Linked DNA regions of Homo sapiens. The protein of the gene in region 1 interacts with the protein of each later gene in a pairwise test. Each region holds a gene or a part of one and is shown on either strand. Other genes may lie near its edges.

The links. Proteins that work in one complex are often made in the same cells at the same time.
Region 2: the proteins of PATZ1 (region 1) and CPSF7 interact in binary tests that used the Homo sapiens proteins (3 or more experiments, as listed by UniProt).

What each region holds. Positions count from the first base shown.
Region 1 is NC_000022.11:31,324,103-31,330,202, forward strand, and holds the end of PATZ1 (POZ-, AT hook-, and zinc finger-containing protein 1 isoform long C), read right to left. Parts: intron 4,823-6,100; coding exon 4,685-4,822; intron 3,208-4,684; coding exon 2,789-3,207; 3' UTR 1,702-2,788; downstream 1-1,701. UniProt on the Homo sapiens protein: Transcriptional regulator that plays a role in many biological processes such as embryogenesis, senescence, T-cell development or neurogenesis. Interacts with the TP53 protein to control genes that are important in proliferation and in the DNA-damage response.
Region 2 is NC_000011.10:61,418,948-61,426,975, forward strand, and holds part of CPSF7 (cleavage and polyadenylation specificity factor subunit 7), read right to left. Parts: intron 2,692-8,028; exon of another isoform or gene 2,662-2,691; coding exon 2,443-2,661; intron 2,311-2,442; exon of another isoform or gene 2,245-2,310; intron 2,184-2,244; exon of another isoform or gene 2,110-2,183; coding exon of another isoform or gene 2,107-2,109; intron 1,627-2,106; coding exon 1,523-1,626; intron 1,148-1,522; coding exon 1,002-1,147; coding exon of another isoform or gene 975-1,001; intron 1-974.

The DNA.
Region 1 (6,100 bases):
CCCAGGCTGGTCTCAAACCCCTGGCCTCAAGTGATCCTCCTGCCTTAGCCTCCCAAAGCTTAGGCTGCCAAGGGAGCAGTGCTTTGGAAGATGCAACAGCCTGCTTGCTCTGTTGTTCCCCTCCTGCCATGTGACAGATACTCCTTTCTAATACCTGTGGTCCCTACCTGTCCATGGACATGCTCACAGGTCTCCAGGGAGCAGAACTAAAATGCGTTCAGGAGCTCGGGCTGGCCCAGTCAAGTCCTTGGTTCAAGGCCAGGTTCTCTTAACACTCAGTGGGTGTGACCAGATTCTGTGGTGGTCACAAAGCTACGTGTCCACAGGGCCTCCACATTCTAGGGTCACCCTTTCCTTTGATACTCACATCTAATGGCCTAAGCCTCTATTCCACACAGTCTGCAAAGCCCAGCAGCTTACCAAGGATTTTGTGTAAATGGCTTAGAATTGTTTTTTAAAAAATTCAGCTGAGAGTCTTTACCTTTACACCAGAACAATGTAATTCTAGGCAGGGTGCAGTGGCTCACGCCTGTAATCCCAGCACTTTGGGAGGCCCAGGCAGGCAGATCACCTGAGGTCAGGAGTTCGAGACCAGCCTGGCCAATGTGGTGAAACCCCGTCTCTACTAAAAATACAAAAATTAGCCAGGCATTGTGGTGCATGCCTTTAATCCCAGTTACTCCAGTTACTCAGGAGGCTGAGGCAGGAGAATTGCTTGGACCTGGGAGGCGGAGGTTGCAGTGAGCCGAGATCACACCACTGCACTCCAGCCTGGGCAACAAGAGCAAAACTCCGTCTCAAAAAAACAAAAAATAATGTAATTCTGATACCAATGTGGGTCTAAAAATTTTTGTGCTGTTTGTTCCCCTAGGTCTGTTTTTCTCTCCTTTACCATTGTTTTGTTTTCTTCTTGCTTGGAGGTTAAATGCTGTCTCTATCCTTTTAGGGGTTTCCCTCTTCCCTGAGATTTCTCAAGATGCCCAGGGTGCCTTAAGTCTGCCTGTCCCTTCTTGTTCCTCATTCTTATTCCTATTAATTCTCCATCGTGCTTACTTCTTGCCTCCTGTTTGTTGTTCTTTCCCTCTTTTCTTCATACATTCACCATTAACGGTGCACCAACCTTTTACTTAACATCAGGTAGATAACATGGTGGGGGAGACAAGTTGCTGAGCTTCTTAGAGCCCCTTGGCCATGAGGAGTCCCTGCCCACATCCCTCCTCAGGTGCTAGCTGGGTAGGCTGTGTCAGATCCCCTCTATAAGCCTTCCCTCCCAGAGCCCCAACCCCACTTCACACCTCCCTGGTCCACCCTACTCACCCTCCTGCTGTCACTGTCCCCTCACCTTGCCCAGTTCTTCTCCTTGTATTTCTCATTATCTGAACTCATATTTAAGTTGTCTGTCTATCCCATTAAGCCTCACAGTGGTGTCTTGTTCACCACCATATCTCAAGAGCATGAAACCATGCCTGGCACACAAGCAGTGAAGACAAGCAGTGGATATTTGTTGAACACATGGGTGAATTCTGGCATTCTAAGTCTTCAGTGGGACCATCTACCTGTCAATCCCAGTGGAACTGGTGCAATGAAGTGGAAAAGGGGTCTCCTGGGATCCCACTCCCACCCCAGGTGCTGGGGTATGGACTGCCCACCTCTGGGTCCCAAAGACCCCCACAGCTGAAAAACTGGACTCAAGGGAGCAGATAGAGTAATGTACTAACATTTTTAATACAGTCTGATCAGATCAATTCACATCACAAGGTCAACCTGGGCTTGCTCACATGTGACACAACTGAGGTACACAATGTCCCTACCTGCCGGCTGTCCCACCTTCCTGGTTCCCAACAGCATTGAAACCCCCTACTTCCCTGACCAGACTGGCATTTTTTAAAATTTTGCATAAAACTATTTCTTCCATAGACTTCAAACAATCAACTAGCCAAGTTAATTATGGTACATCTAAACAAAGTTTAATACTAACCCTAATGTGTGACTGCGGTTTACAAAGAGCTCTGTATCACCTGGGATAGCTTTCAGTAGCAATTCACTACAACTGGTCCTAAAAAATAATAACAATAATAATAATAATTAGAGAATTAAAACCCAACAGCATGTTGAATGGTTAAAATCACGTAAGAACTGAAATTTGGGGTGGGGGTGTCCTCAACAGCTGAGCTTGTCCTAGCAGTGAAAATGCTCGCCTCCAAGCAGGGCTCAGAAAGGTCTGGAGCCCTCCAGGCAGAGGGCTGAGCTCAGGGGGCTCTTGGAGGACACTCACCCCATGGTCCATGGGATGCTTCTGGCTTCCTTAAAAACAGTTGGGCATCCGCATTGTATAAGTAGGTGGAGACCCTAGTGTGGTTCTTTTGAAGGATATGGGAAGGGAGGATGACGAACTAGAGAAGTGGGAGGGGACCAAAATCACTGAGGTCCCAGAATATCATAGATTTGGGTATAGGATTGGGGTCACTAAGAATTGAGCACCAGGAATTCCAGCTTCTTCCCATTAAAGAAACTGGGACTGGTTTTGCCTTGGAGGCCTATGTAGTGTTTTCTGCCCCTGTCCCATACCAAGTCTCATTGATATTTCTGCAGAATATCAGATGAAAATCTATTTCTAAAGACCATTGGGAGAATGGGTGGTGGAGAAGGAGTTGGAGTGGGGTTGGGGGGCAGTTAAAAATGAATAAAAATCTCTCAGCTACAGAACCCAAACATCACTTCCCTCCGCATTCACAGCATTTCCCAGCAGTCCCCAGATGGTTGTTTCCGTGGGGACACAGCAGCTGCCTCATTTCCCTTCAGGCCCCATGGGCTGCTGGTCAACCTCAGGATCTACTAAAGATGACGCAAATGCCGACTGAACAATCTGAAACCCAAAGGACTCGAGGAGAGACATGTTCTGCTGAGGAGAGAAAGGTGAGCCAAGGGCAGGGCCCAGGTCCCCCAGGGGGCCCCCGAGAGCCCGGACATGCACCTTCTGGATGTGTTTGTTCAAGTAGGACTTAGAGCGGAAGAAGCTCCCACATTCAGGGCATGGGTACTTCTTCTCCCCATCAGACTCCATTTTGTTTTTGGGGACTGCCATGTCGCAGGAGAAAGAGCCATTGGCACTCTGCTTCTCTGGCGTCTTCAGGTCGCTGGCATCTGAGAGGTCACCATAGGAGTCAGAGCTCTCAATCGGATCCTGATGTGAGCATTTCTGGCCTTCTACGAAAAAACAAAATATAGGAGAGCGATGAGGCCAGGCTCTGGAGATGCCCCCTCCTGGAGGGGTCATGAGGGGCCAGCTCACAGACCTGTGGAGGGCAGCCATTGGCCAGCCACTGCCCTGGCAGAACCCACGGAGGGTCAGCTGGTCAGTCTGGGAGCCTGGAGTGCCTACAGGGGTGAAACGGCAGGGCCCTAGGGCTGCCAGCCTCCCTTGCTGTGGACTCTTCATGCAGCTGCACATGTACTGCTCACCGTCATCTCAGCCTGCTTCAAGGAAGGGATACAGAGAGGGCAACTCTGCTACAGCTGCCCAGAACAACTCAAAGACCCCCAACTCCTAGGCGCTCTTTTGGGTGCCTCTGAGGGTAAAATTGGTATTCTGATGATGCCGAGCCAGTGTAATAGTAGCCTCGCCTCCTGCACCAGACTAGCTGCACCCTAGCAAGACAGGCAGAACCAGAGCCATTAGGTCCTCAACCTGGGTAGACCCCATCAATGGCTCAGACAGAAGCCAATCCTTTTCCTAATGCTGCAAACATAGCCCTGTCCTTACCGCCTTCCTTCTGCCAAAACCTTTTCAGGGCCAAGCAGCCCAAGCACAGAGATTGAAAGCAACTCTGTACTACTCAGTCGGCTGGGTGTCCCCACCCTAGGCCCCAGACAAGCTGGGCCAAGAGACAACCCTGGCTGCTCTGCCTTGCCCGGCCCACACTGGAGTCCTCCACCAATCAGCAGCTTCCTGCCTGGGTCCAGAGAGCCATGCCGGGAAGGGAGGTCTGTGATGGGAGCATGGAGCATGCCATCTCTGCTGTTTCTACCATCTGCCAAGCCCCTGGCCTCATCCCCAAGGCAACGACAACGTGACATACCACAAAACAACCTGAATCAACAAGTGAAGGTGGGCCTGGGGAGCTTTCTGCAAACCAACTCCCAAGTCAGAGGAGTCAGATAGCTCATTATTGCCATGCATCTCACAACCATAGCCAGAGGCTCTCCAGAAAGGGCCACTCACAGTAACCAACCACTCCTACTGTGAGAGAAGCCAGACATTGGCTCCCACCGGCCCACTGGGTCAAAAGAGGAGAAAGCATTCAGCCGCAGCTCCACACCATCCTAAAGGGCAGCAGGCAGTGACAGGCCCATAGTGACTCATCATGCAGGGCTCTTCTTCTGCCCAGGGCCCGGGGCATCCCTGCAGGGCTCCAGACAGTGGGGGCTGGCCAGGAGGAAAGGAGGAGGGCTGGGGAAGAGGAGGCGGAGGCTGGATCTCGGCAGTGCCCTAAAGCCTCACTCACTGCCCTGGAGTGAGATACCCACTGTGACTTTTGTCCTGGAGGCCACTGCCACTCAGATCTCTGAGTCTCCTCAAGGCAGCCAGAAAGCCGGCAGCCTTCCCGCCTCCCCACGCCCAGCCCAGCGCCCCCACAACACAGTCTGCGCAGAGAAGCAAAGTGCAGAGCAAGGGGTCGCTTGCCTTTGTTGCCATAGGTCCTGGCGCAGTGGAACGCTGCTCCCCCATTCAGGATGGGCTCCTGGTGCCTGGAGACCTGGGGAAGGGGAACACCGTGGTGGGTTTTAACATGGACCTTTAAGTAGGAGGCAGAGGAGAAACCTAAACAAGACAAAAGGAGATGAGATCCCGCGGCCAGCAAGAGATACCTCTCTCCTTCCCCCAACTCCTCTCCTCTGGCCGCTCTGGCTAGCATTCCCAGGTCAGCTGCACCTAGAAGGGGCCCCCTCCTGGCTCAAAAATGGCTGCAACCACATGAGCCATGTGACTCAGGATGGAGGGTGGCACTGTCCACAAATCGGCTTCTCTGCAGAGCCCACTCTGCAAGGCTGCGGTGAGGGGCTGAGGCTGGCTGCCTGGTGGGATGGCCTGAGATCCTGCTCCTGCTAGGGCCAGAGGCCAACTGCCTCTAGGGTTGCTTGGTGCCTCAGTAACAGGTGGTTTGAGTGGATGTCTCCTGCAGGAACCATGACTAGAAATGTGGTTAGACAAGAATTTGAGGCTCCAGGGAAGCCACAGGATTCTAGCCAGCAGGATGCCTGCTTAATCCTCGTAAAAGGAAACTGGACAACAAACGAGATGGAGGTAAAATGAAATCCCAAAGGAACGCCTCCAAGGATCCCGTCTTCTACCTGTCAGGAGATGTTCTATTTTTCTAACTTCCCCACCTTCAGCATAACAGGATTTAGTAACTGTTTAGACCTTTTGAAGAACAAAGACAAAAATAGGAAGTTGTGTCAGAGGAGTGCAGTCATCTCTTATTCATGGTAGTGTTTTGGTTCGATTTTGGAGCATCCACCAGGTTCGCGTACAGGAGAAGAAACACGGATGATCTCTGTCTTTATTTTGGGGGAGGACAATCCGGCCTTCTTGGGACTGTTCCAGCCCACCTCCCAGATGCTTCGGTCAGTCTGATCCACGAGATATCTCAGGCTGGGAAGAACACATCTTGGGCCAACTTCCACAGCAGCCATGCGTCCAAGGATACAGAATCAGGCAGGCCGATAAAAGGATTTTGACTTGGGTTTCACAGGAAGGAGGTATGCCATCAAACCCCACTGTAGTCAAGGATCAGAAGGTGCTTTTAGCAGGAACTGAAGCTTTTTAGTATAAGGCCCACTTAGGGTGCCAGCACCCTGACAGTGTCCCTTTAATCCACTTCAGATCTGGTTGACTCATCATCAGGTGTTTCCATTCACTTTCAAAATTACACAGTCACAGGATAACAGTGAGATCCACTGCTAAAGGGTAAAGGGTCAGAGGCTGAAGAGTACTGTGTAATGTCTGCATGAGATTTGTTTTAAAAAAGTCTGAATTGGCATGGTATTTTGAATGCTGCTGGAACTGTAATAAAGGTTCACCTTTAGGAAGTGCTGATGG
Region 2 (8,028 bases), on another chromosome or scaffold:
ACCTCAGGTATCTGCCCGCCTCAGCCTTCCAAAGCACTGGGATTACAGGTGTGAGCCACCATGCCCAGCCCCTAACTTTTTTATTTTCCCTCCAAGATGGAGTCTTGCTCTGTTGCCCAGGCTGGAGTGCAGTGGTCTGATCTCAGCTCACAGCAACCTCCGTCTCCCGGGGTCAAGCAATTCTCCTGCCTCAGTCTCCCGTGTAGCTGGGATTACAGGCATGTGTCACCCACACCCGGCTAATTTTTGTATTCTTAGTAGAGATGGGGTTTCACCATGTTGGCCAGGCTGGTCTCAAACTCTTGACCTCGTGATCCACCCACCTCGGCCTCTCAAAGTGCTGGGATTATAGGCGTGAGCCACCGCGCCCGGCCTGTAACTTTCTTTACTAATGGGATATAACTGCCAAGCAGACTAAAACATTTGGTAATCAAAAGAGCACCCTCTCCCCTGGACAATGCTGGAGAAATATTGTTCAAGTCTTATTCTCCAACACTCCTCTTGGTTGATTCCTTACAGTATCCTTCCAATCAACGTTTATGAAAAGATTATAGGCACCTTTTAGTTACATTTTAGGGTGGCTGCTTCTTGATAATTTATAGAGAGGCATGTCTTAAAAATTAAGCCCATTCACCTAATGCCAAGTTTTAGACAGAAACACAGAATTTAGAGGTGATGGAACTTTAAACATCATGTCACTAGTCCAGATGGGGAAACAGGCCCTAAGTAGTAAAGTGACTTGGCCAAGGTCACACGAGTCAGTGGCAGAACCAAACTACAACCTGAACCTACTTGACTCCCAGCACAATGCTCTTTCTTCTATATAGACCTATTCTGAGGACTACTTGTCGACCATGACACCACTCACAACCACCATCACCCTCCCCCAAACTCACCCACACTGTAGGCTAAGCCTACACCATAGAAAACAAACCCACAAACACCCCCCCCTCATACAGATGGTCTCCACGTACCCCCTCTTGGGACTCGGACACACTCACGTTTCCGAGCCTGTGCCTCAAACTGTGACAGGTTCTGCCGGGTGGCCGGCCTCACGTCCACTTTTTCTCCATTAAGAACTTTCCCTGGTAGGAGTTCCAACAATTTGTGGACAGAGTTTTCAGAGGCTACCACCACCTCAGCATACCTTAGGAAAGAAAAATTAAAAATGAATGAAATCTGTAGACAGCCAAGAGAAGAAAAAAGAAATTCTCTTCCACTTTTAGTAAAAATTGATAAAGCAAAGGACATCTTGCTAAACTAAACACACATACAGCACTAACAACAAAGAGACAGCCTAAATCTTTATTTTTTTGGAATTAAAAATCAGTATTCTTCGCCCCTTAACAGATGGATATTCTACTACACTGCAGCTAGGTCCCTTTCTAAGGCAGTTTGCCAAAACCAAGGCAGTAAGCTGGGCCAGGGGTGGGAGTGATTAAAATCCAGGGCCAAAATATAGTACAGATCTTTTATCCCAATGGTTACAAATTAAAAGGGGCTTCTCAAATCCAGACCTCACCCTTTGGACTGGCCATTTGCTCGATTCTCTGCAAATTTCAACTCCACCACATCATAGACTCCTATAGAGCGAATAACCTGGATCAGCTGCTGGTCTGTGGTCCACTGGGGCCGGCAAGATGGAAAAGGAAGAGATGTCAAGAGCTACACCCCCGCCCGCCAATGTCCCAAACCCAGGATTCTAGTCACAACTAAGTCCCCCCAGAGGAAACTCAAAAGCCTGGCAATATTTCAATTAGTGCAGACTTTTCTTATTGTCCTCACCCATACAGAATTCCAAACCCACTCACCCCCAATCTCCATCTTTAGAGATTACGAAGATTAAAACTTATTGTAACTTTGACTGCCGTTTGGGCTGGCTGGTCATCAGTTCAAACATTGACAGCTAGCAATTTTTTAATTATAGATCTGTCAGGCTAGAGTTGACCATTGCCAGAACTTCCCCCACAGTAAATATACTTCCTAATTTGGAAAAACCACCCCCACCACCAGCCCCAAAACATCACAAAATAACTTGCAGAACAACAGTCACCACCTACCCCAAGTATACTAGAGTTATCAAGGTCTTTAATCCCCATCACCCACCATTATCACAGGACCATCTAATGACCACCAAGAGTTCAAGGTGTTCACTCTGAAATCTCGTCCCTCAGATGACCCTGCTAGACATAAAGCCCCAGGGTCAGGGGCAGTAACAAGATGGCAGAAAAAGCAACTACCCACTTAATCATTGCTTTCTTCGGCACCAGTACGTCCTCAGGATAGTTCTCTTTCAGAGATCAATCCAACCTGATCCCAGGAAAAAGAAATCCAACCCCATCAGAGCACAAAACAGTGCAACAGTAGTTTCTGAAAATGCCATCACCTCCCAGTGCTCTCCCTCCAGCCCACCCCTAAGCATTTTTGGTTACCCACACTCACCCAGGAGAAGCTGCCCACATAAACGGCAGCTCGTCTATTACGCAGGCCACTGTAGGTATACAGAATTGCAGGGGTCTTGTTGTTGGGCTTGGGAGATGGCTCCTGGCGAACAGGAGGAGGTGGTTCAGTGCTGCTGCTTCTGTCATCTGAGGGCTGTGAGGTGGCTGTCAGCACATCATCATACAGGTCAATCTGATCTGTATTGTTGAACTCTGGGTCCTAAGAGATGAGGGGTTGGCAAAGGTAGGTCTGCAAACTTCATTTTGTTCATTCTATTTCACTCTAGTTTATTAGAATCCAGTTAAATACTTGGTAAAACATGTACAAAACTTCCTTGTCCTACCCCAGGAAACAAAGTAAGAAAAACCTCCTTTTGAAACTGTATCACTTAATTATGCTTATGTACATTTTTTTCCCCTCAAGATTCTGTTAATAGTCTGTAAAGTTTCTGGCTTTAGCCAACGGCAAGAATCAAAAAGCACTGGGTGATTAAGCAAGCAAAGAAAGAATGCATAATGAGATGCATGGGCTGCTGTTATCAATAAGGTCAGCTTCTAAAGACCACATCTAAGATAAGCTAATGAAAACTTATTTTCAGTATCTTATGCTATTTCCAAAATCAAGTGTTACATAAAATTCACTTGTCTATTTAATAATAAATTTATTTAGAAACAGAATGCAGAGGAAAAGCATGAAAGTGGGTACAAAAATGCAGAAAAGATTGGGAGTTACTGATTTAAATCCCTTGATTGGTATAAATGATTTAGGAAAGCTCTAAACTCATTGTACACAATCCCATCTTTCCATCGGAGAAAATAAAAAATAAATAAAAGGGAAGGGAATAACAACAGGGGTTTTCCCCTACTAAGTTCTATTTCTTAAATGACATACAGGCCCAATGCATTACCATGACATGTATCTAGGAGACTTTTTTTTTTTTTTGAGACAGGGTCTCACTTTGTCACCCAGGCTGGAGGGCAGTGGTGCAATTACAACTCACTGCAGCTTCAACCTCCTGGGCTCATGTGATCCTCCCACTTCAGTCTCCCAAGTAACTGGGGACTACAGACATGCGCAACCATGCCCAGCTAATTTTCAAATTTTTTTTGTAGAGACAGGGTTTCACCATGTTGCCCAGGCTAGTCTGGAACTCCTGGACTCAAGTGATCCACTGGCCTCGGCCTCCCAAAGTGCCGGGATTACAGGGGTGACTACCATGCCCAGCCAATATTCAATGATATACAAAAAACAGTTAAAGTTCTCTAAAATATAAGGGCCAGAAAACAGGACAAGAACATAAACTGTATCACACAGTAAGCATTTACAATATGAATATGTATTATGGAAAATGTGCAAAATACATATTCTGCCTATGTGATATCTTACTTACTATATACCAAAACCCCTAAAACTACAACTACTACTACTACGATACAGGACCTTAATGTTTAGGATTTTACAGGCTGGGTGCAGTGGCTCACGCCTTGTATCCCAGCACTTTAGGACGCAGAGATAGGCAAACTGCTTGAGCCCAAGAGTTTCAGACCAGCCTGGGCAACATGGTGAAACCCTATCTCTACAATAAATACAAAAATTAGTTGGGCATGGTGGCACACATCTATAGTCCCAGCTACTCGAGAGGCAGAAGGATCACTCGAGCCCGGGAGGTTGAGGTTGCAGTGAGCCAGCCTGGGCAACAGAGTGAGACCCCATATCAAAAAAAAAAAAAAAAAAAAAAAAAGGGTTCAGGATTCTACAATGTAATTACCTCAGAGAAATCTTTTTTTTTTTTTTTTTTTTTGAGACACAGTCTTGCTCCATTGCCCAGGCTGGAGTGCAGTGGCGCCATCTCAGCTCACTGCAACCTCTGCCTCTTGGGTTCAAGTGATTCTCCTGCCTCAGCCTCCTGAGTAGCTGGGATTACAGGCACACACCACCATGCCCAGCTAATTTTTGTATTTTTAGTAGAGATGGGGTTTCACCATGTTGGTCAGGCTGGTCTCAAACCCTTCATCTCGTGATCTGCCCACCTCGGCCTCCCAAAGTGCTAGGATTACAGGCGTGAGCCACCGTGCCTAGCCTCAGAGAAATCTTTTTAAGGATTAGACAAGCATTTTATTTTTATTACAAGAATTAGACAAAACATTCAAACAATGCTAAAGATAATGCTGCCAAAATGACAGAGACAGCAAGTAGTTCAGTGTTTTAAGGATGCTACGGCAGTTTCATATTGCTATTCTTTTAAAAAGGGAATAAAGGAGGCACCTAAGTTGGGAAACTTGTCTAGTACCCTGAAGAAACAGTTTCTCCAAGGCAACTAAAGACAGGCGGCTCCCTTAACTTTCTCCCTCCAATATCACGGCAATAACTGCTAATTCTGAAGTGATCTGAAGACGACTCACTAAAAAATTTACTCTTAGACCAGTCCTTGTATTATAAGAACCTTTGGAAACAATCTTTCAGTTTTTCAGTTTATCTGAAGTACAGTGGAAGAAAATGCACACTAAGAGAATAATCTTGGGTTGTTCTGATAGAGAAGGGGGAAGGATTCTACTTCCTAAAGCATATAAATAATTTCAAATATTAAAACACTCTAAGAAACCCACCAGGAGGGCTTAACCCTTGTAAAAACGTTAGAAAAAGAATATCAAGAGACAGTAAACTTTTAGGGGGCAACTTAACAACAAGAAATTAGTGAGGCAAATAAGCACAGGAAGCTTGTTCCATGTAGTCAAATCCATCAAAAAGGATTGTGCATAAAAAGGGTCAGCATGTAAAGAATGAGGAGAGAAGCTAACACTGGAGAGGACAGGGTGGATAATAAAGTAAGGTGAGGTCAGCTAGGGCTAATGAGTGGGAAAACATTTTGTGTGTAAGTAATCACTATAAAATATTTCATAGCTGTTACGTCTCAAACTATCCCAACTCTATAGACAAATCACTCTTCTATTCATGTACCAGGTATGGTGAGTTGCTCCTGTGGTTCAAGGTAGAGAAAGGATTTATATACATCACTTGATCCCATCCAATGCTCAAATCCTTAGAAAGCACTACTTCACACCAAGATTCTTCTTTTTTTCTGAGATAGAGTCTCACTTTGTCACCCAGGTTGAAGTGCAGTGGCGCAATCTTGGCTCACTGCAACCTCCGCCTCCTGGGTTCAAGTGATTCTCCTGCCTCAGCCTCCCGAGCAGCTGGAATTACAGGTGTGCACCACCACACCCAGCTAATTTTTGTATTTTTAGTAGAGATGGGGTTTCACCATGTTGGCCAGGCTGGTCTCTAACTCCGGACCTCAGGTGATCCTCCCACCTCAGCCTCTCAAAGTGCTGGGATTACAGGCGTAAGCCACTGCACCCAGCCTTCTTTTTTTTTAAATCAAGGATTTTCAAATGACACGTAAACAGAATAAGGAAACACATCATCTTGGATAATCGAATGGAACCAAACTGAGATTCCCTTCCATGCAGTATCTGTAATTCAGGTATATGTGTCTAAAATTTGTAATGTAAAAATGATCACTGAAAATTGAGTAGTGGACTAACATGCAGATTTGGACAGCTCAGAGACCAAATGCATCACCAGGAAACCCTTCGTACTATATGCTTAGGCAACCAATCCACTGTTTTAAGATCCCTTAAGAATAGGATAGACTAGATCCTGGAGAATCTTGGTATGGCTACCACTTTTAGAAACAAAAGGATTGAATGAATACAAAATTATCACAAGATTTAAATGGTCTCTCTGGGCCACAGAGCCTCAGTTCAAAGAAGCTGGTGGGAACTGCACAGGGCAGGTCTGTTGAGGGTTCTACTGAAGAAACAAGGTATCAAATTGTTTGGATTTTAATCCCCCAGCATCACAATTCATTTTACTTGTTCAGCTAGTAAGACAGAAACACAGTTAAGGGCCGGAGATTTTTCTCAGCGGATTTATGCAGTAATAGATTAAAGTAAAATCAAATTCTACAAATTAAGTGAAAAGTACATTTTACATGCACTGATGTTCAAAGTTTCATTCCAGGGAGATTAAACATGAAACATATATTTAATACTGAATAACTATCTCAAAGAATTTTGTGTTTAATGGCACAGAAAGAACTGTGACTGTCTCATGAAACTTCCTGCTTCCCTGTAAACAAAAGAGAACATGTGTGATTTTCAATTTAAATAAGATCTTCTCCACTTGTCTGCTCAGTGTTCCTAACCTCCACCCTCTTCTTCCTCATATCCCACTGAGGGAAGTAACTAGCCTAGGATTTATTTTTCTCAGAGCAACCAACTTGATACCATTGTTTCTTTTAATTGTAACCAAGGCTTAATCAAAAATTTTGGCTTTATAATGACCATTTCCACAGTTCCCACTTCACACCCTCCTTGTCCTTCACTGTACATTGTCGTTGTCCACCACCCCTACCCACCAGGAGTGGAATCTGTTTTGAGTACAGGGACCCACTTTTTTTTCCTTTTACCTCACTAGTCCTGGCACAGTGCTTAGCAAACACAAGTAGCTCAATAAATAAATACTTATTGATGGACATAAGGAAGAGAACTGGACACTGTGCAAAGCCTGTCTCAGTATGAAAAGCCAAAACTCCCAGCAGAGCAACTGATCTCAGTCACCTTTCCAGAGTTCTCCCTGGCCCAAGAGAGCCAATGTGAATCCCAGGACTCCCTGTGTTACAGGAATAAAGTAGCTCTGGCAAAAACAGGCTTTTGCAGCAAATGCTCTAAGAGATCAGGGAATAAGCACCATAGGGTTCCATCTAGGAAAAATATTAATTTTCCTTGAGGAGCAAAGTGCACATGAAGGGCTTCCTGTGCATGGGCCAGCTTGGGGCGAAATCAGTAACATTCTTAAAACATTCTAAAACACAATTTGTACTGGGTGCCTTCAGACTAAGCCAGCTTCTAACAATTCTAGCCAAAGTTTTTTTGTTTTTTTGTTTTTTAAATAATTTCTGTAGCTTCCAGATGACACTAACACTAACTTTGTCAAAAATAACTAATTGATATGTGTGTGGGGGGGAAGCACTCATCCCTCACCTTCCACAAAACATAAGATATTCAAAATTCACACTTTCTTCAGCTTGCCTAGTGTCAAATATTGCCCGTTGGATATATGTATCTATTAAAGTCCACATACTACCTTTAGCCTGTCTTAGACCCATAAAAAAGTCCTTTTTAACTGAGGAGACCAGAGAACAAACTATTGAGGCCAATAACTTATACTCTAACAAAGCAGTGACCACTGGACAATGAGTTCTGCGTATTTCTCAAAGTGAAATGAATGGCACTATTATCAATCCACAGATAAGAAATTAGAAGGGGAAAAGCTTTTCATTAATAACAAAGGTGGCTGGGTACGGCGGCTCACGCCTGTAATCCCAGCACTTTGGGAGGCCGAGGTGGGCAGATCACAAGGTCAAGAGATTGAGACCATCCTGGCCAACATGGTGAAACCCCGTCTCTACTAAAAATACAAAAATTAGCTGGGCATGGCGGTGCGCGCGCCTGTAGTCCCATCTACTCAGGAGGCTGAGGCAGGAGAATCATTTGAACCTGGGAAAAGGAGGTTGCAGCGAGC